7 linked regions of the Homo sapiens genome follow. The protein of the gene in region 1 interacts with the protein of each later gene in a biochemical or structural test. Each region holds a gene or a part of one and is shown in the gene's direction. Other genes may lie near its edges. The genes, in order: HCN2, ARHGEF12, APBA1, DLG3, RAPGEF6, ARHGAP21 and MPP7.

Region 1 (4,018 bases):
GCACCCTCGCCCCCCAGGGAGGAATGCCCGGGGCTGGTCCCATAGGTGCCTGGGGGAAGGCACCAGCTTGAGGTGTGGGTGCCCCTCGTCCCACAGGGAAGAGGGCCCGGGGCTGGTCCCATAGGTGCCTGGGGGAATGCACCAGCCTGAGCTGTGGGCACCCTCGCCCCCCAGGGAGGAATGCCCGGGGCTGGTCCCATAGGTGCCTGGGGGGAAGGCACCAGCCTGAGGTGTGGGCACCCTCGCCCCCCAGGGAGGAATGCCCGGGGCTGGTCCCATAGGTGCCTGGGGGAAGGCACCAGCCTGAGGTGTGGGTGCCCCTCGTCCCACAGGGAAGAGGGCCCGGGGCTGGTCCCGCAGGCTCCTCGGAGGAGGCACTGGCTCGAGGTGTGGGCGCCCCTCGTCCCCCAAGGAAGAGTGCCCGGGGCTGGTCCCGCAGGTGCCCCGGGGAGGCACCGGCCTGAGGTGTGGGCACCCTCGCCCCCAGGTTCTACTGGGACTTCACCATGCTGCTGTTCATGGTGGGAAACCTCATCATCATCCCAGTGGGCATCACCTTCTTCAAGGATGAGACCACTGCCCCGTGGATCGTGTTCAACGTGGTCTCGGACACCTTCTTCCTCATGGACCTGGTGTTGAACTTCCGCACCGGCATTGTGATCGAGGACAACACGGAGATCATCCTGGACCCCGAGAAGATCAAGAAGAAGTATCTGCGCACGTGGTTCGTGGTGGACTTCGTGTCCTCCATCCCCGTGGACTACATCTTCCTTATCGTGGAGAAGGGCATTGACTCCGAGGTCTACAAGACGGCACGCGCCCTGCGCATCGTGCGCTTCACCAAGATCCTCAGCCTCCTGCGGCTGCTGCGCCTCTCACGCCTGATCCGCTACATCCATCAGTGGGAGGAGGTGAGGTGGGGCGGGGGCGGGGCCAAGGCAGCAGGGGCGGGGCTATAATGGTGCATGGGCGGGGCCAAGGCAGCAGGGGCGGGGCTATAATGGTGCATGGGTGGGGCCAAGGCAGCAGGGGTGGGGCTATGAGAGATCTGGGTGGGGTCAAGGCCCCAGGGGTGGGGCTATGGGAGATCTGGGTGGGGTCAAGGCCCCAGGGATGGGGCTATGAGAGATCTGAGTGGGGTCAAGGCCCCAGGGATGGGGCTATGAGAGATCTGGGTGGGGTCAAGGCCCCAGGGGTGGGGCTATGGGAGATCTGGGTGGGGTCAAGGCCCCAGGGATGGGGCTATGAGAGATCTGGGTGGGGTCAAGGCCCCAGGGGTGGGGCTATGAGGGTGCAGGGGTGGAGCTACAATGGTGCAGTGGTAGAGCCAAGACAGCAGGGGTGGGGCTATCAGGTTGCTGAGCAGGGTCGAGGCAGCAGGGGCAGGGCTATGATGCTGCTGGGGTGGAGTCAAGCAGCAGGGGTGGGGCCGTGATATCTGGGTGGGGTCAAGGAGCAGGGGCAGGGCTGTGAGGGTGCTGGGCGGGGTCAAGGCATCAGGGGCGGGGCTATGAGGGTTGTGCTGAGCGGGGTCAGACATCCGAGTGGAGATATGAGGGTTGTGCTGGGCGGGGTCAGGCAGCAAGGGCGGGACTATGAGGGTTGTGCTGGGCGGGGTCAGGCAGCAGGGGCGGGGCAATGCGGGTTTTGCTGGGGCAGGGCCAGACATCAGGGGTGGGGATATGAGGGTTGTGCTGGGGCGGTGTCAGACATCAGGGGTGGGGAGCTGTGGATTTGGGGGGTGTCCTAGGGCGGGGGCTGTGGATTTGGGGGGGTCCTGCAGTGAAGGCTGTAGAGGTGGGCGGGGTCCTGGGGTGGGGGCTGTGGGTTTGGAGGGCGGGGGTCCCGGGGCAGGGCTGCAGGGTGGGGCGGGGGTCCTGTGCGGGGCCTTGGATTTGGGGGAGGGGGCCAGGAGCTCCCGCAGTGGGGGCGCACGGGGCTGGGGCTCTGAAGGTGGGGGCCGGGGGTCAGCGGGTAGGGTGGGCTCACGGCGCCTTCCTGCAGATCTTCCACATGACCTATGACCTGGCCAGCGCGGTGATGAGGATCTGCAATCTCATCAGCATGATGCTGCTGCTCTGCCACTGGGACGGCTGCCTGCAGTTCCTGGTGCCTATGCTGCAGGACTTCCCGCGCAACTGCTGGGTGTCCATCAATGGCATGGTGGTGAGCGCCGCGGGCCCTGACGGAGGGGGAGACGCAGGCTCCCATACAGAGGGGGGACCCAGGCCCCCTTATCCCGCTTACAGAGGGTTGAACCCAAGCCTTTCAGAGGTGGGGACCCAGGCGCCCCCTTATGGAGGGGAGGACTCGGGCCCTTACAGAGGTGGGGACCCAGGCGCCCCCTTATGGAGGGGAGGACTCGGGCCCTTTCAGAGGCGGGGACCCAGGCGCCCCCTTATGGAGGGGAGGACTCGGGCCCTTACAGAGGTGGGGACCCAGGCGCCCCCTTATGGAGGGGAGGACTCGGGCCCTTTCAGAGGTGGGGACCCAGGCGCCCCCTTATGGAGGGGAGGACTCGGGCCCTTTCAGAGGTGGGGACCCAGGCGCCCCCTTATGGAGGGGAGGACTCGGGCCCTTACAGAGGTGGGGACCCAGGCGCCCCCTTATGGAGGGGAGGACTCGGGCCCTTACAGAGGTGGGGACCCAGGCGCCCCCTTATGGAGGGGAGGACTCGGGCCCTTACAGAGGTGGGGACCCAGGCGCCCCCTTATGGAGGGAAGGACTCGGGCCCTTACAGAGGCGGGGACCCAGGCCGCCTTACAGAGGGAGAGACACAGGCCCTTCAGGGGTGGGGACAAGACCCCCTTACACGGGAGGACTCAGGCCTCTTTACAGAGGGGGACCCAGGACTGCAGCCCCGGCACTGGCCCCTTAATGTCCCTGGGGGTCTGAAACAGCCACTTGGAACCTTTCAGGCCTGGGATCATCCGTGGAGAGAAGCTGAGTGTGGTTATGATGAGTCCTGTCACCCAGACATCTGCTTAGCGCGTTTTCCAATGGATTTCCCTTTTAATTAACCCACATTAATTATTATTATTTTATTTACTTATTTTTTTTTGAGACTGAGTTTCACTCTGTCGCCCAGGCTGGAGTGCAGTGGCACGATCTCGGCTTACCACAAACCCCACCTCCCAGGGTTCAAGGGATTCTCTCGCCTCAGCCTCCCGAGTAGCTGGGACTACAGGCGCCCGCCACCACACCTGGATAATTTTCGTACTTTTAGTAGAGACGGGGTCTCGCCATGTTGGTCAGGCTGGTCTCGAACTCCTGACCTCAGGTGATCCGCCTGCCTCGGCCTCCCAAAGTGTTGGGATTACAGGCGTGAGCCACCGCGCCCGGCCTGGTTGGATCCCTTGAGCCCAGAAGTTGAGGCTGCAGTGAGCCATGATTGCACCACTGCACTCCAGCCTGGGTCACAGAGCAAGACCTGATCTCTAACAACTAAAGAAAAATTTACAACATGGCCCTGAATTGGGAAAGTGGTATCACCATGCCAAAGAAATAATAAATGGGCCAGGCATGGCTGCTCATGCCTGTAATCCCAGCACTTTGGGAGGCTGAGGCAGGCGGATCACCTGAGGTCAGGAGTTTGAGACCAGCCTGACCAACATGCTGAAACCCCGTCTCTACTAAAAATAAAAAATTAGCCAGGCGTGGTGGCGCGCACCTGTAATTCCAGCTACTGTAGAGGCTGAGGCAGGAGAATCGCTTGAACCCGGGAGCAGAGGTTGCAGCGAGCTGAGATCACACCATTGCACTCCAGCCTGGGCAACAGAGCCAGACTTTGTCTCAAAAAAAATAAATAAAAATAAGTAAAAGCAAAAGGAAGAGGCCGGGCGCGGTGGCTCACGCCTGTAATCCCAGCACTTTGGGAGGCCGAGGTGGGGCTGATCACCTGAGGTCAGGAGTTTGAGACCAGCCTGACCAACATGGAGAAACCCCGTCTCTACTAAAAATACAAAACTAGCTTGGCGTGGTGGCGCATGCCTGTAATCCCAGCTACTTGAGAGGCCAA
Region 2 (4,018 bases), on another chromosome or scaffold:
CATATACACACAACATGCACAAAGACAAGCATACTTATATATACATATATAAATAAATACATATCTGTTTGCATAGAATTTTTCTCAAAGGCTACCCAAGAAATGGATATTAGTGATTGCTTCTTTAGGGAAAATTGAGGGGGGTGGGGCAATAGGACAAGGTTAGAGGGAGACTTTTTATTTTTTGCCTTATATAGCCATCTGAATTTTGTACTGTGTGCATGATTTACATATTCAGAAAATAAATATAAGCTAATAAGAGACCAATGACTTTGAAAAGAAGATTGAGAAAGAAAAGCCAAAGAGGCAGGAGGAAAACTAGGAGAGTATATTATCACCAAAGCCACGGGAAGAGAGTGAGTTTTCAGTCCTGTCTAGCATTGCAAAGAGCTCAGTAAAATGGAGATTTTTTTTTTTTGAGATGGAGTCTTGCTGTGTCGCCCAGGCTGGAGTGCAGTGGCGTGATCTCGGCTCACTGCAAGCTCCGCCTCCCAGGTTTGCACCATTCCCCTGCCTCAGCCTCCCAAGTAGCTGGGACCACAGGCGCCCGCCACCATGCCCGGCTAATTTTTTTTTATTTTTAGTAGAGACGGGGTTTCACTGTGTTAGCCAGGATGGTCTTGATCTCCTAACCTCGTGATCCACCTGCCTCAGCCTCCCAAAGTGCTGAGATTACAGGTGTGAGCCACCACGCCTGGCCAAAATGGAGATTTTAAATGCCAAGTTTGATTCAGAAATAGAGAGGTCATTAATGACCAAAGCACTAACCTTGGTTCCACCCTGCCTAATTTTCAGCGCCTAGAAGATTATCAGCGTCGCCTTGATACCTCCAGCCTGAAGTTGTCAGAGTACCCAAATGTTGAAGAGCTCAGGGTGAGAGATGGTCTAATCATAATTTAAAAAATAAAATAAAATTTGCTAAAGACCTGGCAGGTAATTAACATCTCAGTGGGAATATACGTCACCTGAAGGAGTTCTTGTATCGTAGATTATCTGTATTTATGATTTTTTTTGCTGCCTTTTAAATGCTTGATCTGTATGAAATTAGTTTTTCATTAGAGGAATATCTTGCATAAAACTGTAATATTACATGACAGCAATTGGCAGGAGACTAAGGGACACTAATTATTATAAAATTTAATTTTATTGTGTTCTGTAGTTTGTTTCAGACAGGGTCTTGCTCTGTTGCCCAGGCTGGAATGCAGTGGTGCAGTCTTGGCTCACTGAAGCCTTGGCCTCCTGGACTCAGGCAGTCCACCCACCTCAGCCTCCCTAGCAGCTAGGACTATAGGTATATGCCACCATACCCAGCTAATTCTGTGTTTTGTAAAGACAAGGTCTCGCTGTGTTGTCAGGTTGGTCCAGATTTCCTGGGCTCAAGTGCTCCTTTCTCAGCCTCCCACAGTGCAGGGATTACAGGCATGAGCCACTATGCCCAGCCTGTGTTCTGTAGTTTAAATAAGGGTAGGACTGTTTGGTAACTTTCCAGATCATTTAATAACACAAGATAGCATACTATTTTCTCATGAGGCTCTTCAGAAGCATAAAAGTTGGAACCATTACAGGAACGATAGTAAAATGTTTACTAATTGCCACTTCTAGTATGTGGGCTTATGTGTTAACTTTTTCGGATTTTAAGTGTTTTTGTACCATTTCACTAGGTGGTGGTTTTGGCAGATTTATTTGGTGGCTGTTAAAATAGACTTTTATGTCATATATTAATACTTCGTCAACAAGCACGTAAATGTGCTTATTCCCCTTAGCTTCCAAAGAATGAGAGTTTTCTAGAGCTGCTAATACTAAAAGATGATTCTCTTACTAATAAGTTGTTAATATTTAGACCAAGTCTGAGTAGTACCTGGACTTTTCATGAGTACTATTTCTTAGAACTTTCTTTGAAATTAGAGCCTTGGAACTCAGAAGCCACTTTCTTATAGACAAGCATATGTACCATGCTCATCCAGTTATTCATAGGAAAATTAAAGGATACGTTGAGAATCTAGTGACTGAATGTTTGTAACTTGATCTTCATAATCTGTTATCATCTGTTTAGAGTGAGGTTTGAAGATAGTACTCCTGAATGTTCTTCTGCAAGATACCTTTTCCTTTTTAGAAAATTGTATGCAGATTACTTTAATATGGCTTTTGTGCCATTTTCAAGAACTGACAAATAGCAATAATGATAGTTGAATGTAAATGGTGTATTTTATATTAAGAATTTCTTTAAAAGAGACTGTATTATATAGATAATCATGTTACTGAGTGCTTGGAAATTATTTGTGCATGATTTTCTTTATTTTGCCAGAATTTGGATTTAACAAAAAGGAAGATGATTCATGAAGGGCCATTGGTTTGGAAGGTGAATAGAGATAAAACTATTGGTAGGTCTGATATTGTCTTTTAGTTTTGGGGAGAGTGGCAAAAGGGAAGGAATAGGAAAGTTTCCTATGACAAAGGGAAGAGGAGAGAACCATTCTCTCAGCAGTTTGCAGTGCTACCTCGTGTTATTTGTACATTTGTAGATCTGCTTGTGTTATTTCATTATATGTAAGATGTGTTAAATATTCATTTAGGAATGTAGTGGAGAACTGATTTAGTCCTATTTCCATCATTCTTATAGTCTAGTGAGTCTTTGTATGCTTTGTAAGCTTTCTTTAGACCAGTACATCTTAAACTGTCTGTGATGAGGAACCGTTTTTGTTTTTTCAGAAACAAGGTCTTTCTATGTTGCCCAGGCTGGAGCACAGTGGCTAGTCACAGATGCAGTCATGGTGCACTGCTGCCTCGAACTCCTGGGCTTAAGGGATCCTCCTGCCTTAGCCTCCCTAGTAGCCGGGACTATAGGCGCACAGCACCACACCCAGCTTGTTGTTTTTTATTTCCTATTGGTCACAGACTGACACTTCAGTGAAATAAAATAAAAATGAATTACTGAAAATGAAATTTTAAAAGATAATATACAAGTCAATTTTTAAAATTTTGTAGCTTTAACAGAAATAGAATTCCTCTGTTGAATCATTATAAAGTTAATCAAACGCGTCTCCATTTCTGTACTTACCATTTTTTTCTGCACTTTTATTTCTAGATTTATACACGTTGCTGCTGGAAGACATTCTTGTATTGTTACAAAAGCAGGATGATAGACTGGTTTTAAGGTGTCATAGTAAGATTCTGGCATCTACAGCTGATAGCAAACACACGTTTAGCCCTGTCATTAAGTTGAGTACAGTGTTGGTTCGACAAGTGGCAACAGGCAAGTATGTCCACTGAAGGATACTAATTTCCAGATTCATTGTGAAGTTGCATAAGATACTCGGTGCTGTCTCAATAACACAAGTGGCATAGAGTCTTGCTATTTTTATATTCTTAAGCAAATTACATGAAATTTACTGCTTAGAAAGAGACCTAAGAGTTTATACCCCAAAGTTATTAGGGTGTCTCGATTCTGTGAACAGTTTTCTGCATTTGAAAATTTTTATGCTATTACTTTGGTTCTTTATGTTCAAATCATTGATAGATCCCAATGAAAAGCCTTTCATTTAGGGTGGTATGTTTTTTGATTTGGTGAGAAAAAAATCAAAAACCAAAGAGACGGATGTAGTGTTGATTAAAAATCAAATTTGACTGGCAAGTTATATTTTAACTCTATTAACAACGGGGTCCCTTTTAAAACTTGTTAGTTTCATGGTGGCAAAATAAATTTGTGACCTCTTTTCTCCACTACTCACTGAATATTATTAACTAACAACTTAGCAAAAGTGCAGTTCAAAATAAATGCAAAAGAGTAATAGCATTTAATCTGGTAATTTGGATTTATTTATTTTTTTTCTTTTGAGACGAGGGTCCCACCCTGTCACCCAGGCTGGAGTGCAGTGGTACAACCTTGGCACACTGCAACCTCCACATCCCAGGCTCAAGCAATTCTTCAACCTCAGCCTCCTGAGTAGCTGGGACTACAGGCATGCACCACCATGACCTGGCTAATTTTTTTGTTTTATGTAGAGGCAGGGTTTCGCCA
Region 3 (4,018 bases), on another chromosome or scaffold:
GTTTTGTTTTGTTGTTATTGTGTTTGTTTGTTTCGGAAGACTTAGGGGTAAGAGATATTTGAAAATTGACCTCTGGGGCCAAAAGGAATTAACTGTAGTACCTTGGGGAGATAGGACTTTTATCCTAGAAAGAAGAAGTAATTGTTGCTAAAATTGAGAGAATTTCAAGCCGTAAAATCTGAAGTTAACTCTCTGGGTTACAATAATTAATTTGCAAACATTTGTTAATTGCCTCCCGCATCTCAGATCCACTGTACCTTTGGATAGGGGACAGGGAATGTTGAGAAGGGTTGGAGGTTCAAAGAATGCTAAGTCTTAGATCCTGGCCAGAGGTGGATCATGATCTAGAAGGAGAAAAGAGGAAATATGTTACTAACTGTAAAAATAGTGAAAAATGATTAAGTGCTGAAAAAGCAGTATTCCTGCAGAGCTGTGGGAGTTCACAGGGTACAAAGTGACTTCTGATGGAAGAATTAGGGAAGGTTACATGGGATATAGCATTTGAGCTGTGATTAAGGTGGCATTTGGGTTGGCAGAGAAGGAAGGGCATGCTTGGGGGAGGAACAGTGTAGCACAGGCCTGGCAGTGGAAGGTGTATGCCTACACAGGAAACAAAAAAATGGTGTGCTTTGGCTGAAGCGCTAGGAATGCCAAGAGATGTAATGAGGGATAAAGCAAGAAAGAGAGGTTTGTTCAAGGTGGTGGAGCAACTTGTACGCCAAGCTAAGGAGTGTGGATTTTGTTCAGTAAGGACTGGGGAACTATAGAAGATTTGTGAGGAGAAAGATTGACAGTATCAGAACTGTGCTTTGGGGCAATACTTTTGTAGTATTATGTTGGATGGAATGACATGGGAAAAGGCTGGCAGGAGGGAGACCAGATAGACTCTATTGTCAAAGTAGGGGAAAGATGGAAAGAGGCAGTGGGAGGCAAGAAGGGAACACACCTAAGAGGTGGTGTGCGGGAATTATCTGAGGAGCTTGAACAGTCACTGGAAAGTGAGGAAGGGAAAAGGGAGGCCAAAAGATCATTGTCAGGCTTAGCTGAGAGAGCAGTTGGGTCATTTTCAGAAAGAAGATATAACAGAGGATAAGGAAGAGGAGAGAAGTTTCTTTTTGAGCATGACAGGCTTGTCCAAGTTAAGGGACTAGAATACAGAGGGAGGTTAGAGCTACCAGGAGATTTGTAGGTCATCTGCTTAGGAGCGATTTTCATATCCCAGGAATCACTGATAAAGAAAATGAAGAAAGAAGAAGCAAAAGTAAGGATAGGATCCTTGAGGGATGTCTGTATGTTGGAGGGGAAAGAGAAAGAAGAGGACAGGAACCACGTTAAACAAGGGGCAATTGGAGAAAAATGATGGAAGTGAAGTGGTACAGTGTCATGGAAGCTGGAAGGGGTGAGGAGAGCCCCTGTCACTCACACAGCACACCCCATGGGTGACGGTGCAACCAAGGCAAAGCCATTGGATTTGACTCTTGGATTTCCTTGATTGTCTTTGTGGTAGGTGGAAGTGGCAGCCAGGGGCAAGGGTTGAAGGGAGGCGTGGGGGAAGGGAAATGGAAAGCAGTGAAAACAGACTTCATTTTCAATAAGTTGGGAGATAAAAGAGAAGGAGAGAGAGTATGATATATCACAACAATGGTGTAGTAGAGGGAAAGTGGTATTTTTAGTATAGGAAGACTTGAGCCTGCTTTATAAGCTGAGGAGAACAATCCATTGAGGGAAAAAGAGATTGAAAATGTAAGGGAGAGGCTCAATTGAGGGAATTAAGTCTTCAAGAAGATGGGAGGATACTAGATGAAAGCAAAGGAAGGATTCTTTTGAGACAGAAGCATAGGAATTTTGAGGTGGAAAGAAAGGAATTTGGCCACAGTCTTTTAAGTGAGGTCAAAGAGAGGTGGGCAGGTTGAAGCCAGGAGTAGAATGACAAAGACTTGTGGGCATTGTGGAAACAGAGCAGTGAGTCAATTAGGAGTGAATAAAAGATCATTACCCAACCATGAGGACCTCATGTGTTTGAAAAGCAGGAATTTGTAGTGAAACCAATTAACGCTATATAATTGGAGTTTGACAACTACTTAAGTAATTTTTGTATAGTGAGCATTTAATCTCACTAAATACAGTGGTTCTTCATTCCCTTAAATGCAGTAAAAAGAGGAGAATGTTTACCTTTAAAATTATCCAAATAAAAGACTCCACTTGTATTTCCTGTAAATATTCTCTCTCAGAGATCTGAGCTAAATTTTAAGAAGTTTATAGTAAAACAATGGGGAAAAATGTAAGTGTTTTTTTAAAGGATGAGCTTTTTCTATCTGTAATGGTAGAATATGGTTTTACAGTGACGTACATGTAAAGTCAGTTTTCAAAAGAAAAATCAAATATAGCACCTCGCCCAATACCATACCCATCATATGCATTCAATATACATTTGTCACATGAATACATGAATAAACTTTTTTTAAGTAAGCTAGCAACAGTATCTAAAATTTTAAATTTCAGGATTTCATTCTTACACAATGGACATCGAATGAGTTGCCTTTTATGGCCTGTGCAAGTTTATGATAGCATTAAAACTATTTATTCATACCTGATATATACATTGAAGCTTTATTTTTAAAAACCCCACATTTTTCACAAAATGATTGTGAACCCTTTAGATCCTTGAGTTATGGGATTATGTCATGATTCCAGGTGAGTTTATGGAACTTCAACTGTAATGAGTGGTGATTTTGAGGTTTTAATGATGAAATTTATTCATTCCTTCAACATACACTCATTGAACACTTTCTCTGGGCCAGAAACTATTCTAGGTGCAAGGAATATGGGGTGGGGGGAGGCATGTCCTTAATATCACAGAACTTTTAGTGGAAGGAGATTAAAAATAAATAAATAAGTAATTACATAATATGCCAGGTGGTAAGTGCTATGACGAAGAATAAAAGAGAGAGAGCAATGGACTGATGATAGTGGGTGGGTGGGGGGTGACATTAGTTTATATAGTATGGTCAGGGAAGACCTTAAGCAGAAAGAGCTGAAAGATGTGAAGTAGTGAGCCCTGCAGATATTTGGGGGAAGGGTCTTCTAGGCAGAGAGGATATCAAAAATGAAAAGGCTGGATAAGAACATGTTTGGCATCCTCAAGGGACAGCAGGGAAACCTTATTGGTTTCCTTGGTTTACCTGGAGCAGTCACTTAGGGAATTCACAATAAAATGCTTTGCCTTTCATTTTCAATTGTTTGCCCATAAGGCTGTATTACCATCTACTGTATTTGGGCTGACCTATGAATCAGTACTGGGTTTATATAAAGATGAATATCCTCAATCAAATGTATTTAAGTTAGAAAACAATCATGCCTGTAATCCCAGCACTTTGGGAGGCTGAGGCAGGCAGATCACTTGAGGTCAGGAGTTCGAGAGCAGCCTGGCCAACATGGCGAAATGCTGTCTCTACTAAAAATACAAGAATTAGCCGGGCATGGTGGCGCATGCTTGTAGTCCCAGCTATTTGGGAGGCTGAGGCAGGAGAATTGCTTGAACCTGGGAGGCAGAGGTTGCAGTGAGCCGAGATCACATCAGAAAACAAAGCGTGATTCTGTCTGGGTAGTGATGAAATACTAGTCAGCTGGAAGTAGTTCTGCTCCTTGGAACTTACATCTCTTCTGTGTCCTGAATCTTCTTTAAATATTGCTCTCTTTTCTTCTTCCTTGTTTCATGTTCCATTCTCAAGTATAAGATCCTTGAGGCTAGAACTTTGTTTTGTTCATCTGGGTATACTCTATAACACAGACTGACTCTCTGCATTAGTAAGGGTTTATCAAATACTTACGGAGAGGAATTGATGAGAAATTTCCAAAGATTTAAGTAACTCAGGTGTAAAGAATGAGGGTAAAGCTCGTTTACCTTGATTTCTGCAGATAGGTAGCTGTTTTTCAAACAGGACACAGAATTGCCATAGGATGCTAAAGCAGTTTATGCATGCAGACCCTGAGATGAGGACTTGAGTTCAGAATAGTT
Region 4 (4,018 bases), on another chromosome or scaffold:
GTCTTTTATTTAGCTCACCGTTGTCTCCATTTTAGTTTTTCTTGCATGCTTTAAAATCCATTGTTCTGTTTTTTTTTTTCTTCTGTCCTTCCCCTCCATCTTCATGTTCTTTCACAGTCGATCAAAACGAAACGTAAAAAGAGTTTCCGCCTCTCTCGAAAGTTTCCATTTTACAAGAGCAAAGAAAACATGGCCCAGGAGAGCAGCATACAGGAACGTAAGTAGCAGCAGAGTCCAGAGAGCAGGCCATCTGCAGCCCCATCCTCTCATCCTCAGTTGCCCTTCCCTCGAGAGAAGCCTGGGCAGGGCCACGTGTGGCCTCGTGCCTGCCTGTGTGCGTGTGCACCTGCTTATCTACAGAGTCAGGGCAGAAACTGGTCTGCCTAAGGAGATGTTGGGTTTTATTTGTCCTGCTCCTCAGTTAGAATGAATGTTGGAGGCACTGAGGTGGGACTGGTCCCAGGGTCAGCCTCCAGGAAGTGCCTGGCACTAGCAGTGGAAGTGCCAGACAGAGCTCTGCTGTGGTGGTGAGGAACGGTTTTTTAGCTAGACTGTCAGGGTCAGGAAAATGGTTTTTCAAGAGAACAAGGTCTAGGGACTCAGTGTTGCTCTCCTGGTTTCTTCCTCTTGTGTTTTCTTTCCCTTAACTTCACTCATGTATGTCAAGAGAAGAGCCTTTTCTTCCCAGGATCCCTGGAGTTGGGGCTACTTCTGGAATCCCATGCACGTGCATAAGCATACAGGATATCCACACAACTCTCAGCAGACTCGCTGTCATCCTAGAGTGCCTACAGAGCCAGTTTTCCCAGGAGAATCCTTCCTGCTTAAATGAGTTGACATGGAAGGAGTGTTGCTCCACATTGTTCAAATAAAGATCTATTGAGAAACACAAAGTTGGTTCGGTAGGAAGAGCAGTCACACTGAGCTAAATTCAACGGAAGAAGAAATTTAATCCTGATAAATCTTCTTGCTCTACCGTGTGCCTCAGCAATTAACTGCTCCAACCTTAACCTTAAACACCAGGTCTGGCTTGAAAAATGTCTTCTCACTTGTCTCATCATGAACAGTAAACATCTCTCATTTACCAGTGACTCCTCTGTCTTACATGGAGGGATCTTGGGGTCTTGGTCTATTGGGGCTGGCAGGAGACTGACTGGTTCTGATAGGAAATGTCCTTCTGTCAGGCCAGCTTGGTCCACAGTCATGGTATGTGTAAGTCATTGCTATCTGGGGTGGTACCTGGTGGACAGAAGGGTGCCCTCATCTAGATGGCAGCCACGGCTCATCATCCTGGAGTAGTTCAATGAGAAGCCATAGACGGGGTGGCTCTGCTCATGAGCAGTTAGGAGACAGTCTGAGTCAGAGGCCTGAGGTGATGTCACCATAGTTTCATCAGATGAGTCCCAGAGTCCCTCCATGCCAAGCCCAGCCTGGGGAGGTGTTCATTGCTCAGTGGTCCCGCCTGGTGGGCGAGGGGGTATCTACTGGATGACAGAGTTGAAGGTGCCTAGTGCTTCTCCAGAAGCTGAGCTCATCCCCCAAGATCTGTCCAGCTCAGGGCAGCTTTGGAGGCCACACTCTACACCATGCGAAACTTTTCCTGAAGGGTTTGAACAGAGTGAATCAGTATTGGGCAAAGGCTTCTTGAGGTGATGGCAATTCTATCTGCCTACCTGGCACACGCGGACATTTGCTCTTTCACGCACTGCAGAGGGAAATGGTGATTTCAGGGGCAAACAGAGACCTGGGCTCCACAACCAAAATTTAGTCAAAGCAGGTGCTCTAAGCCTTGGAGTGTCACCTGTCCTGTCCCATTGGCCTACAGCTGTAGACACCTCAGAAAGCTAGTCTACTCCAAGGCCCTCTGGCAATGAATTGGGCAGCATGAAGTCTTGATGTCTTATCTGCCCTGGGATGTTCTTTCTGTGGCAAAGTTCCTGGCCTCACTATAGTGCTAGGTCTTCATGGTGTTTCATAATTCTGTCACTAGTGCTCACCTACCTCTGTATTCTTCCTCCCCCCTTGTCTTTTTCTCTATTTTTTCTCTTCTCCCCAAATCTCTCCCTCTCTTCCATTCCCTCCCATCCCTTCCCCTTCCCCCCTCTTCTCCCCGTCGTCCTCTCTCCGCCCTTGCTGTCTGTGAAATCAGGACTTCCCGGGGTTAAGTGACGATTATTATGGAGCAAAGAACCTGAGTAAGTCCAACTTACACACCGTTCACTGTACTTGTGGCATGAATGGAGATAGTGGGGGTGGGGCTATTGGGGACATGGGTGAGGGTGAAGGGTGAGGGGAGGGCAGTGTTTGTGAGCACTCTGACATCACAGCAGGAAGAAGTGCATGTGGCTCCATATGTTACATGTTTGCTATGGATCCCTAGTACCCAAATAAGTCCATATCATTCATGCCTTTGTTTACCTTTTGCTACTCAAAGTGGGAGGGCGTGAGCATGGCATCCCACCTTAGAAGTGAAGTAAGCTTGAAATGTTTCTCCAAGGTAACCACTCAGCTAATCTCTAGCCTATTGTCGAAGGGAGGGGTGCCTGCTGGTTGGATTCTTCTCCCAGTGATACCACGCTAAAGAATTGGGTGTAGGAATTGCAGCTGTTAACAGTCCTCTAACTAGGGGCAAGGGTACTGTGACCCCTTTTTCCCAACCTGCATCTGAGATGTCCCAGCAGATCCCGGGCCTCAGCAAACAGCCACTGTTTGGCTTCCCACAGAGCACCTGTAAGGGGTTGAGCTGGTCTGCTAGGGGCCTCAGCATCATTTATGGACCATATATAGTTAGTGCTTTATCTCAGGAAAACTCCAACCTCATTTTCCTTTCTGGAAAAGAATCCTGGAGTGGAAAATGAAAAAGACCTAGATGATGAGGCCTTAGTGGCCATCCTGCTGCGTGCAAGGGTGCACAGACACCAAATGGGTTCTATCAGCATATACTCTCCTTCAATAAATAATACAGACCAAAGGCAAAGGAGTTGCCCATGGGGATTGTTCAGGAACTAGCCATGTGTGGCAACTCAGCCAGTCCTTTCTGGGTGGGGGGGCCACAGCATATCATGGTCTGGAACAGTGTGGTCTTGGCTGAAATGAGCAGCATCTCTCTCCATAGTTTGGTGTGTCCATGTCTCATCTTCATTCGCGTGTCATCTTGGATGGGCGGGCTTTGTTTGTGCCTCCTACGAGCGCTGCTCCTCCGCCTGAGCTTTCTTTTCCCTCACCACTAAGAGATGGGCAGATCCCAGCTGTGTGAGACAGGAGGGCTGCCTTGTCCTCAAGGTGTTTTTGTTGGTTTTGTTGTCTGTGTTTTGACATATGTGTCTGGTGGTGGATGGAGATGCTTCCCCTCTCACCACTGAAGCCAGGCTCTCCTGCTTTGGAGTGGTGGCAGGAAGGCTGGGGAGCCCACCGAATGGTCAGAGCAGCGCTCCCTGGTGTCTGCTTAACCCATCCAGCGTTTGGCCTCTTAGTTGTGGAGTGCCACATGGTTCTGTACTTCAGGGGCTCTGTTGGGCGGGGGACACCCATGAGCAGACTGGTCCCTGGACTTCTCTTTGCTCCTGTCACTGTCTTTTCTTTCCTGTTGTTAGCCTTGGGAGATGCATTTTGAAATACGATTTGGAAACCATCCAGGTCAATTTGATTCAGATGAAGAGGATGCTGCTGAAGGAAGTATGGCTTGTAGTACATAGGGAGGGACTTGGCAGACCAAGAGGGCTCTGGGGACAAGTACGAGAGGGCCAGGGGCTCAGGATTGGAGCTGTGCCTCCCAGTTGGTAGCCTGGATGTGGCAGGCCTCTGGTGGCCTGACTCAGTTGGCAGCTCAGTGTCTCGCTCCTGGAGCATTTGAGTTTTGTGCTGCATGTGACCTCTCAGTGGTGTGTTCTGAATTGGAGTCTCTTTCTTGTTGGCTTGCAGAGGGAGTGACATCCAACACCAGTGACAGCGAAAGCAGTTCCAGTAAGTGTGTGTCATTCCTTCCATGTCGTGTAGCTCCACTGTGTATCCCAGCCAT
Region 5 (4,018 bases), on another chromosome or scaffold:
ACTAGGATCTCTACACCAGAGGTCAGCAAATGTTTTCTATAAAAGTTACATAGTAAACATTTTAGACTTCACAGGCCATAAGGCCTCTGTCACAACTACTCTGCTATTACACCAGAATAGCCATAGACAACACATAAACAAATGGCATGACTGTGTCCCAGTAAAACTTTTTTTTTTTTTTAAGGCGGAGTCTCGCTCTGTGAGACAGAGTGTCACTCTTGTTGCCCAGGCTGGAGTGCACTGGCGCGATCTCGGCTCACTGCAAGCTCCGCCTCCTGGGTTCACGCTGTTCTCCTGCCTCAGCCTCCCGAGTAGCTGGGACTACAGGCGCCCACCACCACGCCCGGCTAATTTTTTGTATTTTTAGTAGAGACAGGGTTTCACCATGTTAGCCAGGATGGTCTCGATCTCCTGACCTCGTGATCCGCCCGCCTCGGCCTCCCAAAGTGCTGGGATTACAGGCGTGAGCCACCACGCCCAGCCAAAACTTTATTTACAAAAACGAGCAAAGAGACCACCAGATTTGGCCCTGGGCTGTAGTTTGCTACCCCCTGCACTATACTGTAAATGAGGGGTTTACAAACTTTTTTTTGTGAAGGGCTGGGTAGTAAATATTTTCGCCTCTGCAATCTACATATAGTCTCTGTCACAAATTCTTCTGGTTTGGTTTTGTTTTCTTTTCTTTTTTAACCTTTTAAAAGGTTAAAAAACAGAACTATTCTTTGCTCCAGACCATACAAAAATAGGCTGTTGGCTAAATTTGGCCCATGAGCTTTAGTTTGGGGACCCCTGCTATAAATTATTCATTTCATGGGTAATTGGGGAAGTTGCTGTTTACTTGGCACTGTACTGGGCTAACCTCAGAGGTACGTTGAAAAATAAAACATGATTCTTCAAGTTGGGAACTCTTAATTCTGTATGCATGGACGCAGTAGTCTAATATTGTGATGACCAAAAATGAATATGTATACTTAACCTTATTCATTTCAACTCTCATCTTTACATTTTCATTTAAAATCAGTTCAAGAAAAATACTTGCCAGGCATACCTCTGGTCCATCCCAGCTGCTGGGGAGGCTGAGGCGGGAGGATCACTTGAGCCCAGGAGTTAAAAGCTGCAGTGCATCATGATCGTGCCTGTAAATAACCACTGCACTCTGGTCTGGGCAACAGAGTGACACCCTGTCTCGAAAAAAAAAAAAATATCTAACATTTTAAAATTTAAAAAGAAAAATTCTAAGGAAATTTTGCTAAGCATTAGAGTTTCTTTACTGTGTCTTCTGAGTGTTAACTAAATACTTACAAGGAATATAGTGATGAATGATGATAATATTGTTTTCCTCACGATGTTATTTGGCATGAACACTTGTGGTACGTGCTCTGTAGTTTCTCACAGGCAATAATAACTTGAAACAGAGAGAAGATAGTTTTTCTGGCAAGCCTTCTAATTGTACGTTATCTCCAATTTTAGGTGGACACTCTTGAAGCCATCTCTAATCAAGTGTTTAGCTGTCTCATCGTCTGTGAGCAATGAAGAGATTTCTCAAGAGCATATCATTATAGAAGCAGCTGACAGTGGTCGTGGAAGTTGGACTTCGTGTTCAAGCAGCTCCCATGACAACTTCCAAAGCCTTCCAAACCCAAAAAGCTGGGATTTTTTGAACTCTTACAGACATACCCATTTGGATGACCCCATTGCTGAAGTTGAACCCACTGACTCTGAGCCCTATTCCTGTTCTAAAAGCTGCTCTAGAACTTGTGGGCAGTGTAAAGGAAGCCTAGAGAGAAAGAGTTGGACCTCCTCCAGTTCTCTGTCTGACACGTATGAACCAAACTATGGGACAGTTAAACAGAGAGTATTGGAGAGCACCCCAGCTGAGTCATCTGAAGGCTTGGACCCCAAGGATGCCACTGACCCAGTTTATAAAACTGTCACTTCAAGTACAGAAAAGGGCTTGATTGGTAAGTTGTGTTTTTGTTGTCTGTGGCATTTAGAGATTAAGTAGTCAAAAAATGGCATTGGGATATCTTGGCCCTGGATTTTATCGTCGCAAAAATTCATTCTCTAACAACCTTTCTTTCCTTCACAAACAAACAAGTTATTTCCCAAAAATTCATGGTTTCTCAAAGACTTTGGAGCAGCTATTCAACCCCATTAAAATGAAAAGTCTGATGTGAAGGTATTTAATTAGAGGGACAAGTTTGTTTGTCTTTTGTTTTTAAGTTCTTTTTGGTTTTATTGAGGAATATCATCGCATTAGTGTGCAATAGTAGTAAAGGGATTATTCTCTTTATCACCTCATAAATTGTTTGGACCACAATTGGTATGCATACGTGGTAGAAACATTGAATCTGCTATTGATTTTAGGTCGTAACAGTGAGAGAAAATGCAATCAGGAAGTCCAGAACATTTTTCAGTATACTCTCTTGGTGTACATCATGAGTGTGCCAACTCCTGTTTGTGAATTCCATTCCAAGCTTTCTTAGTAAACTTTTTTTTTTAGTATTTGGCCATCAAATACTTTTTAAAAATTTCTTTCCTAAACTATATAAATACGTGGATATAAAACTGCTTTTCTACTTATATGGAATGACTCTACTTTGAATTAATATCATAATCAACTGTTAAATTTATGCAACAGTCATGGTGTCGCATTTAACTACTAAAAATGTGAAGGTGAAATGTGCTGATTTTATAGTTACTTGTCAAATTGCATTATAGGTTGGGTTTTTAGCTCATTCATTTTTTTCCAACTTTTTTTTTTTTTTTTGAGATGGACTCTTGCTGTATTGCCCAGGCTGGAGTGCAGTGGCATGACCTCGGCTCACTGCAACCTTCGCCTGCCAGGTTCAAGCAATTCTCCTCTCTCAGCCTCCCAAGTAGCTGGGATTACAGGTGCCTGCCACCATGCCCAGCTAATTTTTTTATTTTTAGTAGAGATGGGGCTTCATGTTGGCCAGGCTGGTCTCAAACTTCTCACCTCAGGTGATCCACCCACTTCGGCCTCCAAAGTGCTGGGATTACAGGCGTGAACCACCGCACCTGGCCAGAAGTAAAGTTCTTGAAGGAATTAGTTCCTCCGTACCAGCAAAGTTAAAGTTTATATGCTAGGACTGAGAACTAATCTGCCCAGGAGTGCCAGAAAACATTGGTTCATGTCTCAGAGAGAAGGTGAAACAGCCCTTAAACAGATGGCCCAAATGTCATTTCTATGTAAAGTCTCCCAGTTTACAGAGAATCGGTGTGTAGGGTGAACTTTTAAATGTTTCTGATATCTTTAGGGCTGGTGTGACTTCAGGAGTTGTCATGTACTTCTGTGATATGGGGGCTGAATTGCAGAAGGAAGCTTGTCATCAGTGTCATCTCCTTCAACTCTCTCGTTCTATTTAATGTTTACAGGACTTAATATAGTTGTTTATGTATTTTAAAAAGAGGTTTGTTTATTAAACTTTTAAAAAATGTTTTTGATCTGCCATCATTCAAGTTTATTCATTTTGTCTATTTTTAAGTTGTATTTTGTCATTGTAATAAGTTTGTGGGGTGGTTTCTTTTTTTTTCCATTTCTTTTTCATTAACATTTTCATTGCTTATTTTTCATGCCAGTGTACTGTGTCACCTCACCCAAGAAGGACGATAGGTATAGGGAGCCACCTCCCACTCCTCCAGGATATTTGGGGATTTCTTTAGCGGACCTAAAGGAAGGACCCCACACACACCTAAAACCTCCAGATTATAGTGTGGCAGTGCAGAGGTCAAAGATGATGCATAACAGCCTCTCTAGACTGCCACCAGCTTCTCTCAGTAGCAACCTCGTGGCCTGTGTTCCATCGAAGATTGTAACTCAGCCTCAGAGGCATAATTTGCAGCCATTCCATCCTAAACTAGGAGATGTGACTGATGCAGATAGCGAAGCAGATGGTATGTTGACAAGCTCTCTTAAAGGCTCTTAAATGAATTGCTGAACACATTAAATGGTCTTTACTTTGGTATTTTATGGTAATTAGTAATTGTTTCTTTA
Region 6 (4,018 bases), on another chromosome or scaffold:
AAGCAGTTTCCATGTGCAAATATTTATAAAGGAAAATGCTGACATTTTACTGTTTTCTTGGTCTTTTCTATAGATCGCAGACAGCCAAAAGTCATCAGAAGACTCTGGGTCCAGAAAAGATTCTTCCTCAGAGGTCTTCAGTGATGCTGCCAAGGAAGGGTGGCTTCATTTCCGACCCCTTGTCACCGATAAGGGCAAGGTAGTGTGTTTTCTAAGCCACCCTGAGTGTCAGAAATGCAGACCCTGACAAATAAACCATAAAGCCTGTATACATAAAATGGCATGATATCCAGATTAAAGAGTGAAAAAAAAAACCATTTATAAATAGATTTTTCTACATTAAAAAAAGTATTCCTTAAAAAAATTCTAATTATTGCATTAATTTGGTACTTTTTGTCCTGTGTATCAGCTACATGTAGAATATATTGTCTTACGTTTTGGCAATGTAAAAAGGAAATCTAAGTATTTAAAAAGGAACTCTGCTTTTCTTATTAGTTTATTAGCAATGGGTTATTCCGTTGTCCTTTAGGAAGTGGCAAATCAGTTTTAAATTTTTATGTCTCTTTTCTTAGTTTATTTTAAATTACCTTTATAACTTTGTTTCATTTTATTTTAAAAATATTAAGTTAAACAAATATAAAAATATCAATATATGCATCCAGTAGATTTCAACAGAAAAAGACTTTGCCATAAAAATTTTCTATAATATTTGGACAGCTTATATATAAGAACATTTTAATGCTGTCAGAAGAGTTTAAAAATTTTAAGAAAGCTCACTTTGGATGTGGATAGAGTTGCTTAGCCATATAAAGTTGATGAACTCTGTTAATTAGTTATGTATACAATTGTTGGAGAACTCCTGCAGTATCTGTCATTTGTGTGCTCTAAGACGTAAGTCTTTCACTCAACAGGTTTTTTGGACCGATTTTTAAATTTTCTATTCCGTTACTGTTTTTGATATGTTTTGCTACATTTATTTTATTTGATTAGCTTTGTTCATATTGCCTTCCCAACTAAAGTTGGGATTTCACAGTCCTTGACTTTGATATGAATACACTGCCTAACTCAGTTTATGCTCCACAATTTTTATCCTTCCTCTCCTCACAAATAATGTAGTGAGCTAAATCTGCCACCTGCTACACTAGTTATATGTAAATGCAGAGGAAGGGTGTTGCTTAATGTGCTTATCCTGTCACAAAGATTTAGCCAAATATTGACTATTAAAGAACTGTCGCATGTTTTCTAGCGAGTTGGTGGAAGTATTCGGCCATGGAAACAGATGTATGTTGTCCTTCGGGGTCATTCACTTTACCTGTACAAAGATAAAAGAGAGCAGACGACTCCGTCTGAGGAAGAGCAGCCCATCAGTGTTAATGCTTGCTTGATAGACATCTCTTACAGTGAGACCAAGAGGAAAAATGTGTTTCGACTCACCACGTCCGACTGTGAATGCCTGTTTCAGGCTGAAGACAGAGATGATATGCTAGCTTGGATCAAGACGATCCAGGAGAGCAGCAACCTAAACGAAGAGGTGGGTGTTCAAAGGAATGCTGGAGAAATCTGACCCTTTCACAACACTTTCTTACAAAGATCTAAGGAATATGATATATCATTTTTATAAAAAAATTATAATGTGCTATTTTCATGTAAAACAGTTGATGAAAAGGAAAACTCAAACATACCTGTTTTATATTATTTTCACACATTGGAAAATCACCATCACTGAACTAGAAAAATAGGTTATTTATATATGCTGTATACCTTCTCAGAAGCAATGAACTACATTCCTAGTCCTGGTTGTTTGTGACCAAGTTATTCCAGATCCATTTCCATCTTTCAAAGACAGGATTGTTGTAGGGCTTAAGTTACAGTAAAAATACTTACCAGTATAAATAACTATATAAATGCAGAGTGATACTGATGATTTTTGTTAAGAGAACTATACAGTCAAGAATATGGAATAGCCTACTGTCACACAATAGTTAGTTTCTAAGAAAACTTGCATTTTCAAAAATCATAAGTCAGCTTTTTTTTTTTTTTTTTTGAAACGAAGTCCTGCTCTGTTGCCCAGGCTGGAGTGCAGTGGCGCGATCTTGGCTCACTGCAAGCCCTGCCTCCCGGGTTCACACCATTCTCCTGCCTTAGCTTCCCCTGTAGCTGGGATGACAGGCAGCCGTCACCATGCCCGGCTAATTTTTTGTATTTTTAGTAGTGATGGGGTTTCACCGTGTTAGCCAGGATGGTCTCTATCTCCTGACCTTGTGATCTGCCCGCCTCGGCCTCCCAAAGTGCTGGCATTACAGGCGTGAGCCACCGCGCCCGGCCCAGCATTTCTTTTTCATGCAGAACAGTGTTTAGGGATTTGAGAATTTACAGCTTATGATCATCAAGGTATTTTCACAGTAGGAATTTCAATAGTAAAGATAGTTTTTAAAGTATGTATAACTATAAACTTTATCAAGCAAATCTAGCAATGATGAAGTAGCAGTTGCTCAAGTATTTTCTTATCATTAACACAGTTTTTTCTTCACTGTGTTCTCACTTTTCATGCCTATTTATTATAACCAAAAAAGGGGCACGAAGTTCTCTTTTAATACTCAGGAATGCCTACATTAAATGTAAACTTATGCAAATTATGTTCTAATTTAGTCATTTCCATTATATCCAATTCAAAGTATTAAAACGTTACACCATAGGAAAAGTGTGCTTTTTTTCCTTTGGTAGTTTACACTCTGCCTTGTTTGTGGTTAAAAATAACACCAGATCTTTATCAGTGCAACCTATGTTGTACAACTACCCGCTATACAGAGGGCATCAGACCTGAATTTTTGCAAAATAAACAGGGAGAATAAGAACTTAGATGTGGATTTCAGCTTTAAGTAATAGTTCAGAGGAGTTCTGTGTAACAGGCACCTACTATGTGTCAGGCATTCTCTCAGGCAGTAGACTGTCATTGTTAAAACTCCTTCAGATGACTTGTTCTGTGACACATAGTGGCTGTTTGGAGGATTGAATGAGATAATGCATGTGAAGAATGCCTGCCAAGTAATAAACATTTACTTAATGTGAGCTATTAGCATCACCATCTAATCTTAAGACACAGGTACACAAGTATTTTCCCCAGTTTTATAGATGAGAAAACAATAATTCACTGAGCACATACCATATGGCAGATACTATTTTAAACATACTACATGCATTAATCTCAGCAACCATATGAATGTGTCCTATTATCATCACCACCATTCTAAAAATAAGGAAACAGTGGCAAAGAGAGGCTAAATAATTTCCCTAAGGTCACACAGTGACTTAAGCATCAGGGGTAGGATTTAAATCCAGGCAGTCTTATTCTAGATCTTAATCATATGATCTCTCAGCTGATAAGTTGGAAGAGTCTATTTAAATTCAAGATAACTTACTCCCGTATTTAAAGACTGTATTCTTTGTAAACTGTATCATCATTCACTATCATCAAAATGAGGCAAGTTAAAAAAAATTGAGAACCCCAGTCAATATCAATGTATAATTGGAATGAATAGGAAAAAAAGGATCACTTTATGGTCAACTCTGGGTTTACCATATAGCATTTCATACAAGGTAACTCACAGAGGTTAAAAAAAAATCATGCAAATTTTGAGCTTTTCTCTTATCTTCTGATAATGTAACTGCCGCTTGTGATACTAGTTGATCCTTGGTTTCACTATCCTTAAAAATTAGTCAGTCACTAACAAATTCTGGCAGTCTGTTTTCATCTTTTATCCACCTATATTATTTGTTTTTCTTTTTGAAGAAAAATCACTTACACGTATATTTCTTAAATGCTGATCATTCTTTCTGGTATTAGAGAAAACACTGGCTGCTTCCTAGTCATTTATTTTAAATGGACGGATCAATTCAATAAGTATTGAACACATGTTACTTGCTGGTACTATCCTAGGTATCGCATGGATACAGAAAAGAAGCAAAACCCTTTGGCAATGTTGGGAGGCACTTGGAAAATCTTTCACACAGTGATGTT
Region 7 (4,018 bases), on another chromosome or scaffold:
TGTTTTTTAATTTCCATTTTAATCTACTTGTTGACTCTCTGGTGGTATCTCTGGATTAGCTTTTTACTGGTTGCTCTGAATATTAATGTATGCATATCTAACCATTCATGACCTGCTTGCAGTTTAACTTGGTGTCATTTCACATAAAATACAGAAACCTGGCAGCCATTTAAGACCCTTTCCCCCAGCCTAATCTTTTTGTTTTAGGTGTCAAATGTATTACATTTGCATACATTGAAAACTATCAGACAATATTATAACTTTTCTTTAAAATAGTCATATATATCTTAATGAACTTAACAGGAAAAAAGTAGACGTTTACATTTACACAATTATTTGTTCTTTCCTCATTCCTGAATATAAAAGTTTCCTTTTTATCATTTATCTTCAGCCTAAAAAACTTCCTTGAATATTTTTTTTGAACAGTCGGCTGTGAATTCTGTTAGTTTCTCTTCATCTGAGGAGGTCTTTATTTTGCCTTTATTCTTGAAACACATTTTGATTAAGTATTTTCCTTTAGTGCTTTAAAGATATTATTTCATTGATTTCTTATTTTTATGATTTATAATAAATCTGTGACAGTTTAAATCATTATTCACTTATGTGTTCAGTGTTTTTTCCTAGCTGCTTTGAGATTTTTTATTTATCTTTGGCTTTTAATAGTTTGATTATAATGTGTCTAGGCATAATTTTTCCCTTCTGAGTGTATCCTGTTTGGGATTTGCTGAGCTGCTGAAATTGGTAAGTTTATGTATTTCACCAAATTATAGAAGTTTGGGGCCTTTATTTCTTCAAACATATTTTTCTGCCCCAATCTCTTTTTTCCTCTCCTTCTAGTACTCCTATGACATATGTGTTTTCTCATAGGTCCCTGGAGTTCTATCTATATTTTTTAAATCTTGTTGTTGTTGTTGTTGTTTAGATTATATAATTTTATTGTTCTGTCTTCAAGTTCACTGGCTTTTCTTTCTGTCATTCTGTTATTGTGCCCATCTAGTGATTTGTTTCTGTTGGATATTTTTATTTTTCATTTCTACAATTTCTATTTGTTTTTTTCTTTATAGTTTCTGTTCTTCTGCTAAGAATTTATATTTTTGTTCAATTCAAGTATATTTTCTCTTACCTTTTCAAGCTTAGTTATGGTACCTGTTTGAAAGACTTATGTCTAATCTAACTTCCAGGTCATTCAGGGTTGCTATCTGTTATCTTTCCCCTTGAAAATTGGTGTTTTTTTTGTTTTGTTTTGTTTTTTTTTGTTTTTGGTTCTTTCATGTTGAATAATTTCAGATTGCATTTTGGACATTGTGAATATAATGTTGTATTAACACTAGGTCTTGTTACCATATTCGGGAGAATGTTGATGTTTTTATTTTAGCTGCCAGCTTCTTTTATCTCACCTTTGTTATATTGATTTGGGTCTGTTAGGATGCAAGGATTAGTCTAAGACTTGTGTGCATGGTTCAGATCTCAGCTCAGTTCTTTAAGCCTTTTCTTCATTGGCTTAGATATGTTTTGCGATACTCTTTTTCAGGGGTTAGGCTGAAACCTGTACATTCCACTCTCAGTTCATAAGGCCTTTGCCGTGCTGGTTTGAGTTTGAACTACATGTGTGTAGCACAGAGAGGATTCTTAGACTATTGTTGACTCATACACAGAAGTGAAGTATTTTCTTCTCCAGCTTTCTTCTCTCCTGGATTTCCTCCACACTTTACAGCCCACAAGGACTTTTTCTACCCCCCGTCCCAAGTTCTTTGCACCAGAACGTTAGGGCTTCTCTTGGCATTTTGCTGCAGATTCTACCATGCTGCTCTGCGAAGGATTCCCACCCTTGGGGCAAAGCTAAGAGGAAAATAGAGTTAAACTCCTCCCCGTGCAGTTTGACTCCCCTCTACAGTCTACCTGCTTTACTTATTTTCAAAGTGTTCGGGTAGTTTCTTGGCATCCATAGTTTTTAGTTGGGATCTGCAGGAAGGATGGCCTGTAGTGGGTTTACATTTGCCATGTCAGCACTGGAGTGCCTTGGGCTTTGTTCATGTTGTCGTTTTAATGAATCCTATATTTTCTGCTCCATTTTAGTTCGTTAATAAATAATTAGGCAAGATTACTGAAAGGTTAGAAGTTCAATAGTATTCTAAGATGATGCTATTTATGACTTTGCAAAGGAGGAATGAGTAGCACACAGAAGTATTTGGCTTCACTTGGCTGGTAAAACAAAACTTTGATGGCATACCCACTATGTCCCATGAGAAGAAGAGAGTCAAACAGTTTCAGAGTTTATCTAACAACTTAGTGGTTAATAGATTTGCTTTAATGAATGAAGATCAATAAAGATAATAAGCATATTATTTGCAAAAAAAAAAAAAAGGTTTTTTTCCTCAGGAGTTTAAATAGCACTCTTGTATCAGGTTAGAGAGCCTTCAAAATAGCAAATAATAGCAGAGACATACAATGCAATTAACTTTTTAACCCATCTTCAAATCAATATAATTTTAATAACAGTGGAAAATCTGGATTTATAACAGCTTACTGTATTTTATTAGCTAATTTGCTTTTTAAATACATTTTTAAATCCTGTTGAAAAAACTAATTAAATACCCTTGATTTCTTTTTTAGTATTTTCCTTAAGGTGGCTGATGTGGGCTTTTCTAAACTCCTTTTCATTAAATCATAGATACCACCAGAGCAAGAAGAAGCCAGGAGAGTGATGGTGTTGAATACATTTTCATTTCCAAGCATTTGTTTGAGACAGATGTACAAAATAACAAGTATGTGGACATTTTTGAGAATTTTCATGTGACTGTTTTTTATAAGCACATGCCTGTCCCGTTTTAGACAACTGAGAGTTCTCCATTTGAAGTGTATTTTAATTATCATAATAATATTTGAAACAGATGAAAAGGTAATAATTTGGTTGGTAATTATTGTTAATCTTCACCTCTAATTTTTTAGTAACCTGGATTTGCTTCATTTCTATAAAATGTGTAGACACTGCTTTGCAGAATGAGGGAAGGTTGCAAGTGTCTTATTCTGACCTCCTTCCAGCCCACTAATTGAATCTTAACATGTAATTTGGATAGAATTTTACTTCAAAAACCAACAACTATGTAGTATATCACTAGGTCCAGCGTCTGCTTCACACACCTGCATCTCATTCTCTCATTGGCTCTTCAAAAAATTGAAATGATGATAATTAACTTGCTGGTACCGTCTTCTCTAGCTAGCTCCAAGCCCACCCCAGTGCCCCCTGCCCAGGTTTTCCATCTGCTGAGGCACAAATATTTTAGGCTATCAGAAGCAATATGTGTTTTAATGCAGGATTGTGGGATTTTATTAAAACATCGAAATGCTTTTTTCGTGTTTGGCGCAGTGATTGTGTTTTTATAGCACATGATCGACTGCCCTGGCTCCATTAGCCACCACCCAGCGCCTCTAGTTCTGAAGCTGGGCTGGGTTACTCCGTAGCGTGCAATGAAATTCCAGTAGTTTCTATTGTTTGGCTTATTCACCATTTTATTGCATTGCATTAGTTCTGAAGAAAAAGGGGGTGATGGAAAACATTAGAGCCCTACTAGACTAAAGTACTTTTTTTCTGCTTAAGTGTAATTTAAGCAAGTGTTACTGATTTGAAAATGTATAATAAAAGATTTTTTAAAAACTGACATTTTGAAATACTTGGCTCTGTTTATATTATTAAACACAGTTTAAAAAAATTACGTGTTCAGCAGAAACGTCTTTTACCTATGAATTTTATCTTGCCACCTATAATTGTTTTAAATTCACAAATGATTCCAATGCATTTAATTTTTTACAGGTTTATTGAATATGGAGAATATAAAAACAACTACTACGGCACAAGTATAGACTCAGTTCGGTCTGTCCTTGCTAAAAACAAAGTTTGTTTGTTGGATGTTCAGCCTCATGTAAGTAAACAATGAGCTATTCAATACCCTTCTGACCCATGTCATCTACAGCACCTCATGTGAGCATTTCAGTATGAAATAATATGAAGTCAACTCAC

Evidence for each region.
Region 2: the proteins of HCN2 (region 1) and ARHGEF12 interact in a test that uses a peptide from one of them, tested with the Homo sapiens proteins (one large-scale study listed by IntAct).
Region 3: the proteins of HCN2 (region 1) and APBA1 interact in a test that uses a peptide from one of them, tested with the Homo sapiens proteins (one large-scale study listed by IntAct).
Region 4: the proteins of HCN2 (region 1) and DLG3 interact in a test that uses a peptide from one of them, tested with the Homo sapiens proteins (one large-scale study listed by IntAct).
Region 5: the proteins of HCN2 (region 1) and RAPGEF6 interact in a test that uses a peptide from one of them, tested with the Homo sapiens proteins (one large-scale study listed by IntAct).
Region 6: the proteins of HCN2 (region 1) and ARHGAP21 interact in a test that uses a peptide from one of them, tested with the Homo sapiens proteins (one large-scale study listed by IntAct).
Region 7: the proteins of HCN2 (region 1) and MPP7 interact in a test that uses a peptide from one of them, tested with the Homo sapiens proteins (one large-scale study listed by IntAct).

Annotation. Positions count from the first base shown.
Region 1 is NC_000019.10:603,057-607,074, forward strand, and holds part of HCN2 (potassium/sodium hyperpolarization-activated cyclic nucleotide-gated channel 2), read left to right. Parts: intron 1-487; coding exon 488-911; intron 912-2,004; coding exon 2,005-2,166; intron 2,167-4,018. UniProt on the Homo sapiens protein: Hyperpolarization-activated ion channel that is permeable to sodium and potassium ions. Displays lower selectivity for K(+) over Na(+) ions. Contributes to the native pacemaker currents in heart (If) and in neurons (Ih).
Region 2 is NC_000011.10:120,472,255-120,476,272, forward strand, and holds part of ARHGEF12 (rho guanine nucleotide exchange factor 12), read left to right. Parts: intron 1-795; coding exon 796-873; intron 874-2,305; coding exon 2,306-2,381; intron 2,382-3,085; coding exon 3,086-3,253; intron 3,254-4,018. UniProt on the Homo sapiens protein: May play a role in the regulation of RhoA GTPase by guanine nucleotide-binding alpha-12 (GNA12) and alpha-13 (GNA13). Acts as guanine nucleotide exchange factor (GEF) for RhoA GTPase and may act as GTPase-activating protein (GAP) for GNA12 and GNA13.
Region 3 is NC_000009.12:69,665,354-69,669,371, reverse strand, and holds part of APBA1 (amyloid-beta A4 precursor protein-binding family A member 1), read left to right. Parts: intron 1-4,018. UniProt on the Homo sapiens protein: Putative function in synaptic vesicle exocytosis by binding to Munc18-1, an essential component of the synaptic vesicle exocytotic machinery. May modulate processing of the amyloid-beta precursor protein (APP) and hence formation of APP-beta.
Region 4 is NC_000023.11:70,493,259-70,497,276, forward strand, and holds part of DLG3 (disks large homolog 3), read left to right. Parts: intron 1-117; coding exon of another isoform or gene 118-217; intron 218-2,149; coding exon 2,150-2,195; intron 2,196-3,921; coding exon of another isoform or gene 3,922-3,963; intron 3,964-4,018. UniProt on the Homo sapiens protein: Required for learning most likely through its role in synaptic plasticity following NMDA receptor signaling.
Region 5 is NC_000005.10:131,428,802-131,432,819, reverse strand, and holds part of RAPGEF6 (rap guanine nucleotide exchange factor 6), read left to right. Parts: intron 1-1,470; coding exon 1,471-1,961; intron 1,962-3,603; coding exon 3,604-3,918; intron 3,919-4,018. UniProt on the Homo sapiens protein: Guanine nucleotide exchange factor (GEF) for Rap1A, Rap2A and M-Ras GTPases. Does not interact with cAMP.
Region 6 is NC_000010.11:24,598,159-24,602,176, reverse strand, and holds part of ARHGAP21 (rho GTPase-activating protein 21), read left to right. Parts: intron 1-73; coding exon 74-199; intron 200-1,246; coding exon 1,247-1,531; intron 1,532-4,018. UniProt on the Homo sapiens protein: Functions as a GTPase-activating protein (GAP) for RHOA and CDC42. Downstream partner of ARF1 which may control Golgi apparatus structure and function. Also required for CTNNA1 recruitment to adherens junctions.
Region 7 is NC_000010.11:28,058,397-28,062,414, reverse strand, and holds part of MPP7 (MAGUK p55 subfamily member 7), read left to right. Parts: intron 1-2,671; coding exon 2,672-2,765; exon of another isoform or gene 2,766-2,899; intron 2,900-3,811; coding exon 3,812-3,920; intron 3,921-4,018. UniProt on the Homo sapiens protein: Acts as an important adapter that promotes epithelial cell polarity and tight junction formation via its interaction with DLG1. Involved in the assembly of protein complexes at sites of cell-cell contact.